2 linked regions of the Homo sapiens genome follow. The protein of the gene in region 1 interacts with the protein of each later gene in a biochemical or structural test. Each region holds a gene or a part of one and is shown in the gene's direction. Other genes may lie near its edges. The genes, in order: MAP4K4 and CTTNBP2NL.

Region 1 (7,252 bases):
CCTCAGCCTCCCAAAGTGCTGGGATTATAGGCATGAGCCATCCCGCATGGCCAGCCTTCCTTCCTTCCTTTTTTTTTTTTTTTTTTTTTGACGGAGTCTTGCTCCATCGCCCAGGCTGGAGTGCAGTGTAGTGGTGCAATCTTGGCTCACTGCAACCTCTACCTTCTGGGTTCAAGCGATTTTCTTGCCTCAGCCTCCCAAGTAGCTGGGACTACAGGTGCGAACCACCACCAGGCCTGGCTAATTTTTTGTATTTTTAGTAGAGATAGGGTTTTGTCATGTTGGCCAGGTTGGTCTCGAACTCCTGGGCTCAAGTGATCTGCCTGCTTCGGCATCCCAAAGTGCTGGGATTACAGGCGTGAGCCACTGTGCCCAGCCATCTTGCTCTATTTCTCAGGGTTCTCTGAACTGAGTCCGCTGCCCAGTGGGGCCAGTCTCCTCATTCTTTTAACTTCTCATTCTTTGTCCAAGCAAGCTACATTGTTTTCCTCCCTATGTAAAATGTCAAATTGGTATTTATTTTCCACTGTATCACCTTGATTGTCCTTTTGGGTGGATTTATTTTGTGTCCTCAACAGATTATTAAGGACAAAGGCAGTGACAAGACTACCTCCTGGCATCATGTACTACCCACAGCTTTTTATGAACTGAGCACTTGTGTCCCCTCCCCCAATCCCTCCATTCATTTGTTGAAGCTTGAATCCCTAGTGTGGCTGTGTTTGGAGACAGGGCCTCTAAGGAAGTAATTAAGGTTAAGCAAGGTCTTAAGGGTGGGGCCCTGATGGATAGGATTAGTGCCTCATAAGAGACACCAGAGAACTCATTCTCTCTCCTCAAGCGTGCTGAGGAAAGGCCATGTGTAAACATAGTAAGAAGGAGGCTGCCTGCTAGCCAGAAAGAGAACCCTCACCAGAAATCGATTTGGTGAGAACTCTGATCTTGGACTTCTAGCCTCCAGAACTGCAAGAAAACAATTTTCTGTTATTTGAGCCACCCAGGCTATATAGTATTTTGCAATGGCAGCCCAAGCTAATACATGGGTGTTGATTGAAAACATGGCCCCTATGCTGGGCGCTAGAGTGGAGTTTCAAGCTGGGCATGTGTACACTGCTCCTGCATGAAAAGGTAATTAACTTTGGTTTTGGGTTCAAAACTAAATCTTCCTTTATTGCTACCATTTAGTAATTCCCATCCTTTACTCTGTTGTGACAGCATCCTCCCAAGTGTGGACATCCTCCCAAGCTCTGAACCACAAACAAATCTCTTACCTTCTTTTCTACACTGCCTTCTGGCATCGTATCAGATGCCAAGCCTTAGAGAATCTGCTGTCTCAAGACCTCTTATATTAATATCTCCTGTCACCCTTTATTACCCTGGCATAGGCTCTTGCCTCTTGCTTGTTCTTCTCATTTCCAGTCTTCATCTGGTATGCAGAGGAGGAAAGGGAGGCTCAGAAGAAACACATGCCAGGTTGCACAACTGACCAATAACTAGGGTTCAAACCCAGTTCAATTTTGCCCAAATCCAGCATACTTTCCACTAGACCTGTTTAGTACTCTTTCCATCTTGCTAAAATCTACACTGTTCTGCTTTGTACTATGGTTATTTGTGAAGCTGTCTTATGCCTATTATCAGTGTGTAAGCTCTTTGAGGGTAGGCTGTCTTGATCTTCCTGATATCCCAGGCAATGGCTAAGCCAGCGCCTTGCACTGTGTAGGCACTTCCAGAATAGGTAATGACTCTAAAGTGGGAGATAATGGTCACAATGGTGATATAGACATAGCAGCTTAGGAGAGAGACAGATTTAAAGAAAGCCTGTAGGAGAAGGAAGAGATGATTTTGAGTTGGGCTTGAGGTGATGAAGGAATTTGGATAGATTGAGAGGAAGGGTTGGTGTGAGGTGGGCTTCAATGTCATGGGTTTGGAGTTGAATCTGTGGAAGGAGGCTGCTTTGGAAGGGGCCCTGGCGTTTCTGCATCAGGTCTAGTTGTGCATAGTGAGCAAGTTACTTAACTTTTTTAAGGGCTGGTTTTCTAACATATAAAGTGGGAATAATGGAGTGTCATTTGGAATTAAGAGCAGAATAATGAGATAATACATGTGAAGGACTTAGCACGTTGTATCATCTATTATTAATAATAAACACTTAAAATGTTAGCAATAGGCCAGGTATGGTGGCTCATGCCTGTAATCCAGCACTTTGGGAAGCCGAGGTGGGCAGATCACCTGAGGTCAGGAGTTCGAGACCAGCCTGGCCAACATGGTGAAACCCTGTCTCTACTAAAAATAAAAAATTAGCTGGGCATGGTGGCAGGCACCTGTAGTCCCAGCTACTGGGGAGGCTGAGGCAGGAGAATTGCTGGAACCCAGGAGGCAGAGGTTGCAGTGAGCTGAGAGCACTCCACTGCACTCCAGCTTGGGTGACAGAGCAAGATTCTGTCTCAAAACAAACAAACAAACAAAAAACAATGTTATCAATAGTAAGATAGCCTGAAAGTTCAGATGTGTTTCTGTCTAGTTCTCTGAGTAAATTATTTTATTTACACTCATAGATAATGACATTGCTGCTGACAAAAACCAAAATTATCTAAAAGCACCAATACATTCATAGGAATACTTGGTTACTATAATTTTCCTTACAAATGGATACCAGGAGCCCCTCTATATATTTTACCCTTACCAGGGATTCTCATAGTCAAAAATTTCAGAAACCAAACTGTTGGGAAGCAGGATAGTGCTATACATATTCTGGGTAGAGCTAACTTGGCTGAATCAGAGATCTGGATTTTGGGAACAGGCTAACCTGGTGAAAATCCCTGCTCCACTTCCAGGCTGTGCTTTTAAGGAATTTGGACATACTCCTTATCTTTCAGTACTTTGCTTTCCTTACCTAAAAGGAGGATAACATTCCTTCAAGGCTGTAAATAGAGTGCTGTGTGTAAAGCACTCGGCACAACGCGTTTGTGTGGGGGAGACACAGTATGTGCATAAGAATTGGTAGATGATGATGGTGATGTTTATGAAAATCCAATCATGAATAGCCGGAGGCCACTGTTGTCAACGAGTGATCCCTGTAACAGCGACGTTAGCTACACTGAGAACTTACACATGCACATTCTCAGGCCCATTGCAGACCTCCTGAAACGAGAACTCGGGAGGCAGGGCCAGGCAATTGGCACTTTGCCTGAAGCACTCACGTTTTGAGAACACCTGTCAGGTAACAGGGAACCACTGAAAGTTTTTGGACGGTGGAGGAATGCGATATAAATGACTGTTGATTCACTGGCATTAAAGTGCCTAACTACCGACTGGCTTCCGAGGTTGCCGGAAGAAACCTGTTGGTTGATCCTTAGTGATCTCCAGGTTACAAAATGCGGGTTGGTACTAAGGGCCCCAAACACAGTGCTCACCTACCGAGCGCAGCCAGGAGCGCAGCGCCAGACAATTACAGGAGCTGTTTTGGATATGGCCGGGCAGCCCAGCGATGCTCAGCGAATCCCACAACTACAACCACAACCGTACCACACATTTAGCCTGCAAAAGCAGAGAAAGGAAAAGAAAACCGTGCAGGGAAGCCGGAAACGAGGGACTTAAGGGTCTCCTCTCTAGGGTGTGGGAGAGTGGGGGATGGGGCGAATGGGGCGAGGAGGGGGCGAGGATCGAGGGAGGCCCCTCCTCCGCTCGGCAACACCGGGTTCGGGTCCCTCTAGAGCCGGGACGCGGCCGGCGGGACACACCCTTGCCCTGGGAGACGCGAGGGTCCATGGCCTCTTAGTGTCGGTCCAGCTCAGTTTCGTGTCATTTGTTGTTAGCGCGAGGTAGGGGCGTTTCCCCACCCCAGCTCCTCCCCGGGGAAATCCCAGCCCGCTTCCTCCCCGCTCCTGCAGTTTTCGGGAGCGCCGTGCGGGGTCGAGCGCGGAGGCCGCACCCTGGGCGCCGGGCGTCGTGTCGGGACCGCTGCCCGCGCTGCCCGCCGGCGCGGCCATTGTTCGAGCCCCACCCCTGATGAATATTCACGCCGCGCGGGCGCCTCGGCCCGCGCCCTACCCGGCAGGGCTCGGGGTGTGAGTGCGTTTCCGCCGGTTTTTCCTGCCTGAGGAGGAAAGGGGGAGCTGTTTTCTCTCTCCTCAGAATATATTTTTGGTGTCCCGTTTCTCCTCCTCCAGCGCCGCCGCCGCCCCCTCCCTCCCCACCTCGCTCCCCGCCTCCGCCTCCGCCTCCCGGGTTATCTTTGTCTCGCTGCCTCGCGCTCACTCGCTCAACTCGGCGCCGCCGCGGCCCCACGCTCCGGGCCCGTCCTCGAGGCGCGCGGCGCGGGGCGCGGGCGCCGGGGCCTGAGGCGGCGGGCGACGCCCGGGGGCCTGACGGCCGGCCCCGCGCCATGGTGTGAGCGCCGCCGCCCGTGCACGCTCCGTCCGCCCTCCGCGCGGCCCGGCCGGCAGAGAGCCCCGAGCGGCCCGAGAGCGCAGCCGAGCCCGCCGCCGCCGCCCGCGGCCCCGCGAGGAGAGTACCGGGCCGGCTCGGCTGCCGCGCGAGGAGCGCGGTCGGCGGCCTGGTCTGCGGCTGAGATACACAGAGCGACAGAGACATTTATTGTTATTTGTTTTTTGGTGGCAAAAAGGGAAAATGGCGAACGACTCCCCTGCAAAAAGTCTGGTGGACATCGACCTCTCCTCCCTGCGGGTGAGTGGGCCCGCGAGCGGGCGCGCGGGGAGCGGGCAGCCGGCAGCCGGCAGCCGGGGCCGCGCCCAGGTCGGCCGGGCGCTCGGGCGCCGCCGTGGGCAGAGCCGCGGGGCGCGGCGGCCCCTTTGTCTTCCTGTGCGGGCTGGTGCGGGGCGGGCGCTACCCTCTACCGCCCCCACGCCCCGAGCCCGCCGCGCGACCCCCGGGCGCTGGGGGACCGCGCGGGGCGAAGCCCACCTCTTTTGTCACCGCCTTTTCTCTCCAACTGCCTTGCTTGATTTATTCATTTTTTTGGCTTCTTTTAAATGATAACCCCTCCCCTCCTTCCTCTCCAGGATCCTGCTGGGATTTTTGAGCTGGTGGAAGTGGTTGGAAATGGCACCTATGGACAAGTCTATAAGGTCGGTGTGGGCGCCTTCTTTGTTTCCCGTGGCATGTGGAAACTTCTTATTGGGGGACGAGGAGAGGGTGATAAACATGCTGCTGACTGGAGGCCACGCCGCTTGGCCAAAGTTGGGAGAGGGGTTTCTTTCGCCTTGCAGTCCCTCTGTTTTTGCACACCGAGTTTATATTCAGACTGGCCTTAAAAGACCTCATTTCCTGGCTTTGAGATAAGGAAATAAGCTACACTCTTAGGCATGCACTTTACTTCGATAAAATGGAAAAGCATTTTTTAAAAATAAGACAACCTGAATTTTTTCTTTTTTTCCCCAAATCCGGCCTTCTGAGTTTGTGTGTAAATTGAAATACAGTGGAGGCGGGCCTTGCCTCTGACGATCCTAAACCACTGCTTTGGCCATCGTGAAAATTGTCATCATGTTTCAGCCTCCACTCAGTGCTTGCCAGTTGCTCAAGGTGGGGAGTTTGGCGTTACCTGGGAATACTTTATAACTGTGGTTGTCATCCTTTCTATTGATGGATACGTATTTTGGGGAAGCAGGGAGGAGTGTGTGTTTGGGCAACAGCAGCAGGAAGAATTACAGTGTGGGGATTATAAAATCTGAATTCCAGGAATAACCTGTTTGACAGCTGTGTAATTGAAACAGAAATGACAGAGAGCGAAGAGAATATAGAGGATGCCCTGGTTTACACCCACCCAGGTCTTTCTCTTTTTTCAAAATTTTAACACCCACCCTCCACCCCAGCGATAAATGAAACTAGCAAATCTGGAGACTGAGTCTGCGCTGAGTAGCTGACACCTGATGTGACTAACAGTGTTCATTTTATACATTGTACAGTCTAGAGATTATGAAAGATGTGTAGGGAATGGAGGCGCAGGCCTTGAAAATTCAGAACGGAATGTTAAATTTTTCCTGTCTTAATTTGTTTCTCAATACTGAACGTTTTCTAAAAGTTTAATCTGCACTGGGGGAGTGTTCTGTTAGAGTCGGTACAAGGTTAGGGAAGCAGGGCTCTGTGGTTCACCATGAAGAATTGTCATTGTCTCATTAAAAATGGGTGGAGTTGGGGGGGTTGGAAGCCGACTGTAGACCTTTTCTTAGGCTAGATTAAGTGTGGATCTTATTGTCTCTTTTCTGCGTTGTGAGTAGAGTTTATCTATCACTTGAACGCCTCTCCTTAGCCTAGACTTCTAGCCTGGGTAGTGTACTGTACTGGACTGTGGTCCGAACTTGGGTCAGTATTCTTAGGTGATCTCAAGTGTATTAGCTTGTGTTTTGTTGGTTAACTGTTCGGGCCGGGGCCAGATTTTTGAATTTGAAAGAGAGCCCCGTTAACTCAGCTTGCCCGGCTCAACTGAATTTGGAAGGCTTTGGAAAATTTTGGAAAAGATTGTGTTGCAACTCACTGAGTGGTTGGTAACTGGCTAAAAGACATTCTCCCCGGTCTGTTGTTTGTTTAAGCACCAGTCATTTTTTTTCTAACCCAGTTTTTTCTCGCCAAATTAAATGGTGATTGTAGTCTTCCAAGTGAATTAGCCAGAGCTTGTTTTTGACCTGGCTACACAGTAGTTGGATTGTTTGTGTCTTACTTGGTCAGCATGGATGTTAAGGGCAGAGAAGTAAGCTAGAAGGCGATATAGTCTTTAAACCTTAAGAGAAAGGAAAGAATGAAACCCCAGTTTGTCTTTATTGGTTTTAAGAGGTGGGAGCTGTTTATGGTAAGAGTTTAGTCAGGTTCATTGTTATTTCCCCTCATTGCCATTTTGGTTCCATTCCCCGCAACCTTCCCGAGCTTTTGAACTAGGTTTGCTGAGCGCTAGCTACGTTTGGTAGGTATTTGGGATACTGGCATGACACAGCTCTCTGACTACAAAGTCGGTACAGTTGAGAATTTCTCTAATTATGCAAACCTAGGGAATTAAATCTGTGCAAAAGTTGCCTACAGTCCAGAACAAAATAGTGCCTGAGATTTTGCTCATAAGCAGTTACATTTTTATATTATTATGGAAAATTTCAAACATAAAGACTAGAGAGCTCAGTTTATCAGCAGATGACTAATCTTTTCTCATCTGTATTCTTCTTTTCCTCCTTTATTTTAATGTAAACCCCAAATGCTATTTCAGCTGTAAATACTTTAGAATGTTTCTTTTTTACACAATCACATTGTT
Region 2 (7,526 bases), on another chromosome or scaffold:
CTCACTGCCATCTCCACCTCCCAGGTTCAAGCGATTCTCCTGCCTCAGCCTCCTGAGTAGCTGGGACTACAGGTGTGCACCACCACGTCTGGCTAATTTTTTTGTATTTTAAGTAGAGACAGGGTTTCACCATGTTGGCCAGGCTGGTCTTAAACTCCTGACCTCAAGTGATCCTCCCACCTCCACCTCCCAAAGTGCTGGGATGGGATTACAGGTGTGGGTAACCATGCCTAGCCGAGTTGGGACATATTAGTGAAATGTTCCAGTTATTAACATTTGTGTGCAGAAGTGATTTATAAACACAGAGATAATAAAAGAATTCTTCTTTGTCATTGACAAGGAATAGAACTTTTTCTTGCCTAGGCTGGACTGTTTTGTAATTAAAGTGACTCTGAAGATTGTTTTAATTTTACTCTTTTATAAGGATGTATATTTATCATAACAGATCAAAGACTTTTTGTTTCATTTTACATATCGAACACTTTAAGTACAATATAATTTAGTTCTTTGTATATGTACCTCTTATTTTTATTTTATTAGAATCTAACAAATAATACTTGGTTTTTACTTAGAAGCTTAAACTAGAACCAAGAAGGACTTCCCAATTGCAAAAGGGCAACTGAAGTTATTTCCGAGGTCATCGATCTTGGCTGTCTGCAGTTTTTGATAGTGCCTTTCTTAAATTCTTTTGAAAAATGAGACAGGATAATAGTTACTAATAATGAAACCAGGTATCAGCAATGTGGTAAGATGTTCTACATTTATTAACTTAATCTTCATAGCAGCCCTATGAGTTAAATATCATCATCCCCCTTTCACAGATTAGAAAACGGAGTCAGATAACTTGCCCAGTCACACAACTAGGAAGATGCAGATGTGGCATCTGACTACCAAGCTACATGTTCTTTCCAATATAACCTCTAATAAAGTGTAGCTTTATTAGGTTTGTTAGAATTTTTTTGTTTAGTTTTGTTTTAGTTTTTATTTTTATTTTTAAAATAAATGTTATCAGATATATCCCTGATACTAAAGTGAACGTCATTTACTAGTTGCTGAAATTCACTTGTTAGAAAATAGAGGCTGGGCGTGGTGGCTCACACCTTTAATCTCAGCACTTTGAGAGGCCAAGGCGGGCGGATCACCTGAGGTCAGGAGTTGGAGACCAGCTTGGCCAACATGGTAAAACCCCATCTCTACTAAAAATACAAAAATTAGCTGGGCATGATGGCATGTGCCTGTAATCCCAGCTACTTGGGAGGCTGAGGCAGGAGAATCGCTGGAACCCGGGAGGCGGAGGTTGCAGTGAGCCAAGACTGCACCATTGCTCTCCAGCCTGGGCAACAAGAGCAAAACTCTGTCTCAAAAAAATAAATAAATAAAAAGAAAAAGAAAAAAAGGCCAGGTGTGGTGGCTCACACCTGTAATCCTAGCACTTTGGGAGACTGAGGTGGGCGGATCACCTGAGGTCAGGAGTTCAAGACCAGCCTTGCCAACATGGTGAAACCCCGTCTCTACTAAAATACAAAAATTAGCCAGGCGTGATGGTGGTTGCCTGTAATCCCAGCTACTCAGAGGCTGAGACTGGAGAAGTACTTGAACCTGGGAGACGGTGGTTGCAGTGAGCCGAAATCACCCCACTGCATTCCAGCCTGGGCAACTGAGTGAGACTCCATCTCAAAAAAAGAAAATTAGCAGTTAGAGCTGAGGTTACATCGAAGATGTTTTACTATGCTTTAAAAGACTTGGACAGCATGTCCTGGAACACAATCTAACAACAAAGTGAAGTATGCATTTTATACATGTTCACTTAAAAGCAGTAGCTCTGGAAGGAATCAATTCTTTTTTTGTGTGCCCCCCAAAATTAAAAAGAGTGATAAATTACTGGAGGATGTGTGAACTGGTCATGTTTTGATTCACTTTCCATAAGAGTGGCAATTTGAAAATAAAAAGTGGAGAGAGAAATATTTGTTCTACTTTGGAAATTATAAAATATATCTTACCATACACACTGGTCAGAAGGCTCTTCCAAGATTGTACAGCAGTCTAACTTGTATCTTTATGTGGTTTGTGAGAATTAGTGTTGTAGAAAGGATTGAGTTTGTGTCATGCAATTTGCCATTTAACATACTTTGGAACATGCAGATTCTCAGAGAAATGTGAACTTACCAAGTCAGATAAATTCAGTTTTTGGTAGCCTAGCCAATTAAGATGTTTAAACAGGCCTGGCACAGTGGCTCATGCCTGTAATCCCAGCACTTTGAAGGCTAAGGTGGGAGGATCACTTGAGCCCAGGAGTTTGAGTCCAGTCTGGGCAACACAGGGAGACCCCATTTCTACAAACAATAAAAAATAAATTAACCAGGCGTGGTGGCATGTATCGGTGATCCTAGCTACTTGGGAGGCTGAGGCGGGAGAATTACTTGAGCCCAGGAGGTTGAGGCTGCAGTGAGCCGTGTTTGCACCACTACACTCCAGCCTGGGTGACAGAGCAAGACCCTGTCTTAAAACAAAAAAAAATAAAGATGTTTAAACCCTATACTTTGAGAATTCATTTAAAAGTAAGTTTGCATATAGTTGAATTAAGTCTATTTTACTATACAAGATATAAATATTGTGTTAGCTATTGTCTGTGAAAGCAGACAATTTAAAAGAAAAATTTCTCCCATACTCCCACCAAACATTATCTCTTTTCCCGAATTTTATTTTAACCAATTGAAGAGGGATATCAGAATGTTTTATATACAGTTTTGGAAATTGGTTATCTAAAACTGGGAAATCTTTTGATGGTCTATCAATTTTTCAGAGAAATGGTATTCATTATAACACAATTTTACCTGAAAAATCAGTGGCTAATTCTTGTTTGCTTTTTTTTTGGTTTTTTTTTTTTGAGACAGAGTCTCACTCTGTCGCCCAGGCTGGAGTACAGTGGCGTGGTCTCGGCTCACTGCAATCTTTGCCTCCCGCGTTCAAGTGATTCCCCTGCCTCAGCCTCCCGAGTAGCTGGGACTACAGGCGTGCCCCACCATGCCCGGCTAATGTTTTGTATTTCAGTAGAGACAGGGTTTTACCATGTTGGCCGGGATGGTCTCGATCTCCTGACTTCGTGGTCCGCCCACCTTAGCCTCCCAAAGTGCTGGGATTACAGGCATGAGCCACTGCACCCAGCCCTAGCGGCTAATTCTTTCTGAGATTTCCTAGGATATTTGTTTGTAAACGTGTCTGGAGGAAATATGATGAAAAATTGATCTTTGTGAGTGGTAGTGAAATCAATAATTAAAGTGAATTTTACTTTCTGTTGTTGCTTAGTTTGTGATTAACACCAGAAAACATATTTCTATTTAATTTCAACTATTTCCTTTATTAAGGCATTTGATACTATAATTGCTCTTATCTCTCACTTTATTTTTTCTTTAATTGTATCAAATTAACTATGTCTTTGGAGATTGTCTGATTGTTACCTTTGTTTCAGGCTTTCAAGATGAATCTGGAAAAACTCAGCAAGCCTGAACTCCTGACACTATTTAGTATTCTTGAAGGAGAGCTTGAAGCAAGGGACCTTGTTATAGAAGCCTTAAAGGTATGTTAAAAGAAAAAAAAAAAGAGGTCATCATACATTGTGAAAGTCATTCATTAGTTTTAATTTATTTAACTAAGGTATTTCTGCAGTTTCCATTGAAATTAAATGGAGGACATACTGATACTTGCCATAGGTAGCCACCTACATTGTGTGTTATTAGGGACACTGGTGAAACCTTTCTGTTTTCAAAATAGTTCCCTTAGTTTCTCGATCTGATGTCTAGACCTTGAACTTCATTCTTTTTTTTTTTTTGAGACGGAGTGTCACTCTGTCGCCAGGCTGGAGTGCAGTGGCGCTATCTCGGCTCACTGCAACTTCTGCCTCCTGCATTCAAGTTCCTGCCCCAGCCTCCTGAGTAGCTGGGACTACAGGCGCACACCACCATGCCCAGCTAATTTTTGTATTTTTAGTAGAGACAGGGTTTCACCATGTTGGCCAGGATGGTCTTGATCTCTTGACCTGGTGATCCGCCCCCGCTTAGCCTCCCAAAGTGCTGAAATTACAGGTGTGAGCCACCACGCCCGGCAGAATTTCATTCTTTTAGTTTAGTGGCCCTTAGCTGTTTTTGAACGCTGACCCCTTTGAGACTTGATAAGAGCAACTTCCTAATAAATGTACATACATCCATATATCAAAATTTGAAATATAATATCTGGGAGATCAAGGATCCCATGAAAACATCCACGGATTCCCTGGACCCCAGATTAAGAATTCTTTTGGTAGTTTTAGCCCATTTCTAATTGTCACTGCTAATTGCCTATTGTTAGTCTCACTTCTTTGCCCCATTTATCATCTGTCTCAATCCCTTCATAATTAGGATAGGAGTGGAGGTAACAGCTGCCTCTAATGGAAAAATCAGAGGATGACCTCGTTTTCTCTTTTATAGTTTTACCGAGATAACCTGTCTGCTTTTCAGCCTTAGAAACTGTACAAACCTGTAGTGCTTTATGTGTCTATTTACTAATCACTGTATCCTCAGCACCCAGCATAGTGCCAGGCATGTAGATGCTCAGTAAATGTTTGTTGAACAAATGAAATGATTGTACCATTGTGGTGTGTTACTTTAAAAGATTACTATAATACTTCTAAGTGGATGTTGTGAATTACTAAATTTTAAAGCCTCTTCTTATGTACTCTGCAGCACATACTGCCTTCTGGTTTTAATGTTAACAGATGCTTAGATGCTTTTTGCACATGTTTTCCTAAAATATATTTTTTTCTTCATGAATCCAATTTTGGTTACTATAGGCAGTTCTGATAAGTTGAGAGAGAAGCTTGAGAAGCAAGAGCTAAAATTAAGGGAGCATTTTGATATAAGATACCATTCAGAATCAGGCACAAGTGTTGTATTTAGTCTGCATATGGTCTGTAGGTGATAAAATTATTCTGAGGCTTAACTCTGTGCAGTTTAGGTGAAATGAATAACTTCACCAGAAGTGACATATCTTTAAACAATCTATTGTTAGATAAAATAGGGGGCAGCCGGGATTAAAATTGTTTCAATCGTTTGAGAAAAGTAACTGCCATAGCATTCTTTAAACTGAAGTATCATTTTATTTATGGAGTTTTGGGGGGTTTTTTGTTGTTATTTGTTTTGGTTCTCCAATGTATCAGGATTTTACTGCATTATTTGTATCGTTTTTGCTTAACAATAAACACCTGTTGGACTTTATGAACTACTATGGCAACTTACCAATTTTCTTCCTTTTAATATTGGTTCTTAATTGATGCTTAGTCGGTTGAAAAGGTTTTGGTCTTTGTTCTAAATAGTTATGATTTGTTTTTCTTTTCTGTTTTGTCTCCAGTAAAAAAAAGCTTATCTTTTTATTTTCTCCCTAGCTTCAAAATAGATTTTTGTCTGGACATAAAATCTGTTCTTTAATCTTATATCTCTAAACAAAACCATATGGCTTACTGTCACTTCTTTGGCAAGGCTTGAGTTTCTTTCAGGATATGTTGTAAAGTTCCCATAGGCTGTAAGTTGACCTCACCTATAGAGTTAGAATTGTAAAAGAGCTACATTCCTATTCCAAAATTTCTGCAAAGTGCCAGATTGCAGCTATACTCTTCTAGAGCCCCCCATAATTACGTTCTTTTTCTTCCCAGAATCCTCCTCACTCACTCTCTATTGCAGCCAAGACATGTTTGGCATAGAACCAGGGAAAGCCAATAGAAAATAATGTAACACATTATTCAGTGTCTTGTATATTTCAAATCTAATTGTTATGGAGGGGACCTATACTATATTTGGTCCTAATTAAATTTTATTTAAAGTGGTTTTCTGTTTTAGAAGGAATCATGTCAGAAAAAAAAAAACTTCTTTATGAACGTCTTTCCCTTTTATTACTTTAATTTCATGAATAAGAACACCAAAGGAATACCCTCTACAATGAAAGCAAATTACATTGCTCATGAACTGTCTGGGGGAAGCAGAGAGTGGAACCACATAGTTCAGCAGGAAAGCCTCAGTTCATTAATTCCAAGCAAATCTAGTAAATGGCTTCCTACCATAGGCTGTGATTGCTTCAGAGGAGAATAAAGGAAGGTTAATCAATGGCCATTTTAAAAAATCTGAAAAATAGATTTGACTGCTAATAAAATTTAGATTAAATAGTTTATTTCTGAATATTCCACATCGGGTATATTACATCTGCACATCTTAGATCTGATGCAAAGCCACACTAAATGGCTTCTGTGACTAAATAGAATCCACCTTGCATTTATTGGTATTGCTTTATTTTAAAGCATTCTTTAAATCATCTATACAATGATAAATGGTGAAATATTACAGCTTTCATGTGCGATTAACTTAAGGAGTCTTGAATTCGTTTCCATTGATGCCTCAATCATAAAATAGGGATATCCTCTTTTAAAACCGAGGATAGAACTTTGTTGTGTTTGGCCAAATGCTGTTGCAAAATCCCCCAAGCAAGAAGATTTACAGGCAAAAATGTTGTAGACATGACAAAGTTAGAAGTATATTTAGAGTATGAGATTATGTAATACATCATTCTATAGGTTTAACTGTTGTGAGTTTTTTCAGCCACAAAGGGTTAAAATGAAAAAATCGAAATGTTATGTCTTTGTTGAAACAAATAATTTACTTTCACTGAAAATATTATTGAAAAAATAATCATAAGGATCTAATGACAGTGCCAAAATATAGAAAACAAAAGTTACCATGGAAGGTGCTGTGGCTTAAGAACATCACAGCTATGATCATATAGTGGTTAGTACTCTGTGTTGTGCCTGCAGCAACCTCAGTTGTATCCAAGTTGTGGCACCAAAAATTAAAAAAAAAATAACAATGCAAGTTCACTATAAGTCCATAGCCTAACATCTGCCTTTGGTCACGGCCTTGTACTTATTATGGAAGCAGATTATTATAAAGACTGGTCTGAAATGAAAAACGTAAAATTGAACTTAGCAATCACCATACATACTAATAAGCCTGTGAAGAGAGTTTGCATTTTTTAAAAAAATCAGATATTAGCTTGCTTGATAACAGATCTTTGAAAGTCTTAAACGGACTCAAGTTGAAACATTCTCTGGCACCCATAAGCCTGGACCTAACAGTTCTTTGGCCAAAAATGATCCCATTTTAATAGATGGTTTTTAGGAAGAGCTTTTAAGATTGGGATGGGTGGTTTCGATCATTGATAAAGATCACATGAACACATGAACATAAGCTATAACTGACAGAAGTCCAATTTCTGTCTAGTTCCCAACTGGGATATTAGGGTGGGAGCAGAACTTTATTTAGGTTACTGAGTTATAAGGTTTTTATATTTACAGTATTCATAACCTTTATTATAAAACGTTAATGAATTAATCAGTGACCATTTGTGGCCACATTTTAATATGTTTTTTAGAGTTGGAGTGGCTTTTTTTTTTTTTTTGAGATGAAGTCTCGCTCTGTTGCCCAGGCTGGAGTGCAATAGCATGGTTT

What was found.
Region 2: the proteins of MAP4K4 (region 1) and CTTNBP2NL form a complex in vitro, tested with the Homo sapiens proteins (one study listed by BioGRID).

What each region holds. Positions count from the first base shown.
Region 1 is NC_000002.12:101,693,455-101,700,706, forward strand, and holds the start of MAP4K4 (mitogen-activated protein kinase kinase kinase kinase 4), read left to right. Parts: upstream 1-4,252; 5' UTR 4,253-4,626; coding exon 4,627-4,683; intron 4,684-4,810; exon of another isoform or gene 4,811-4,988; coding exon of another isoform or gene 4,989-5,018; coding exon 5,019-5,084; intron 5,085-7,252.
Region 2 is NC_000001.11:112,412,688-112,420,213, forward strand, and holds part of CTTNBP2NL (CTTNBP2 N-terminal-like protein), read left to right. Parts: intron 1-3,469; 5' UTR 3,470-3,478; coding exon 3,479-3,577; intron 3,578-7,526. UniProt on the Homo sapiens protein: Regulates lamellipodial actin dynamics in a CTTN-dependent manner. Associates with core striatin-interacting phosphatase and kinase (STRIPAK) complex to form CTTNBP2NL-STRIPAK complexes.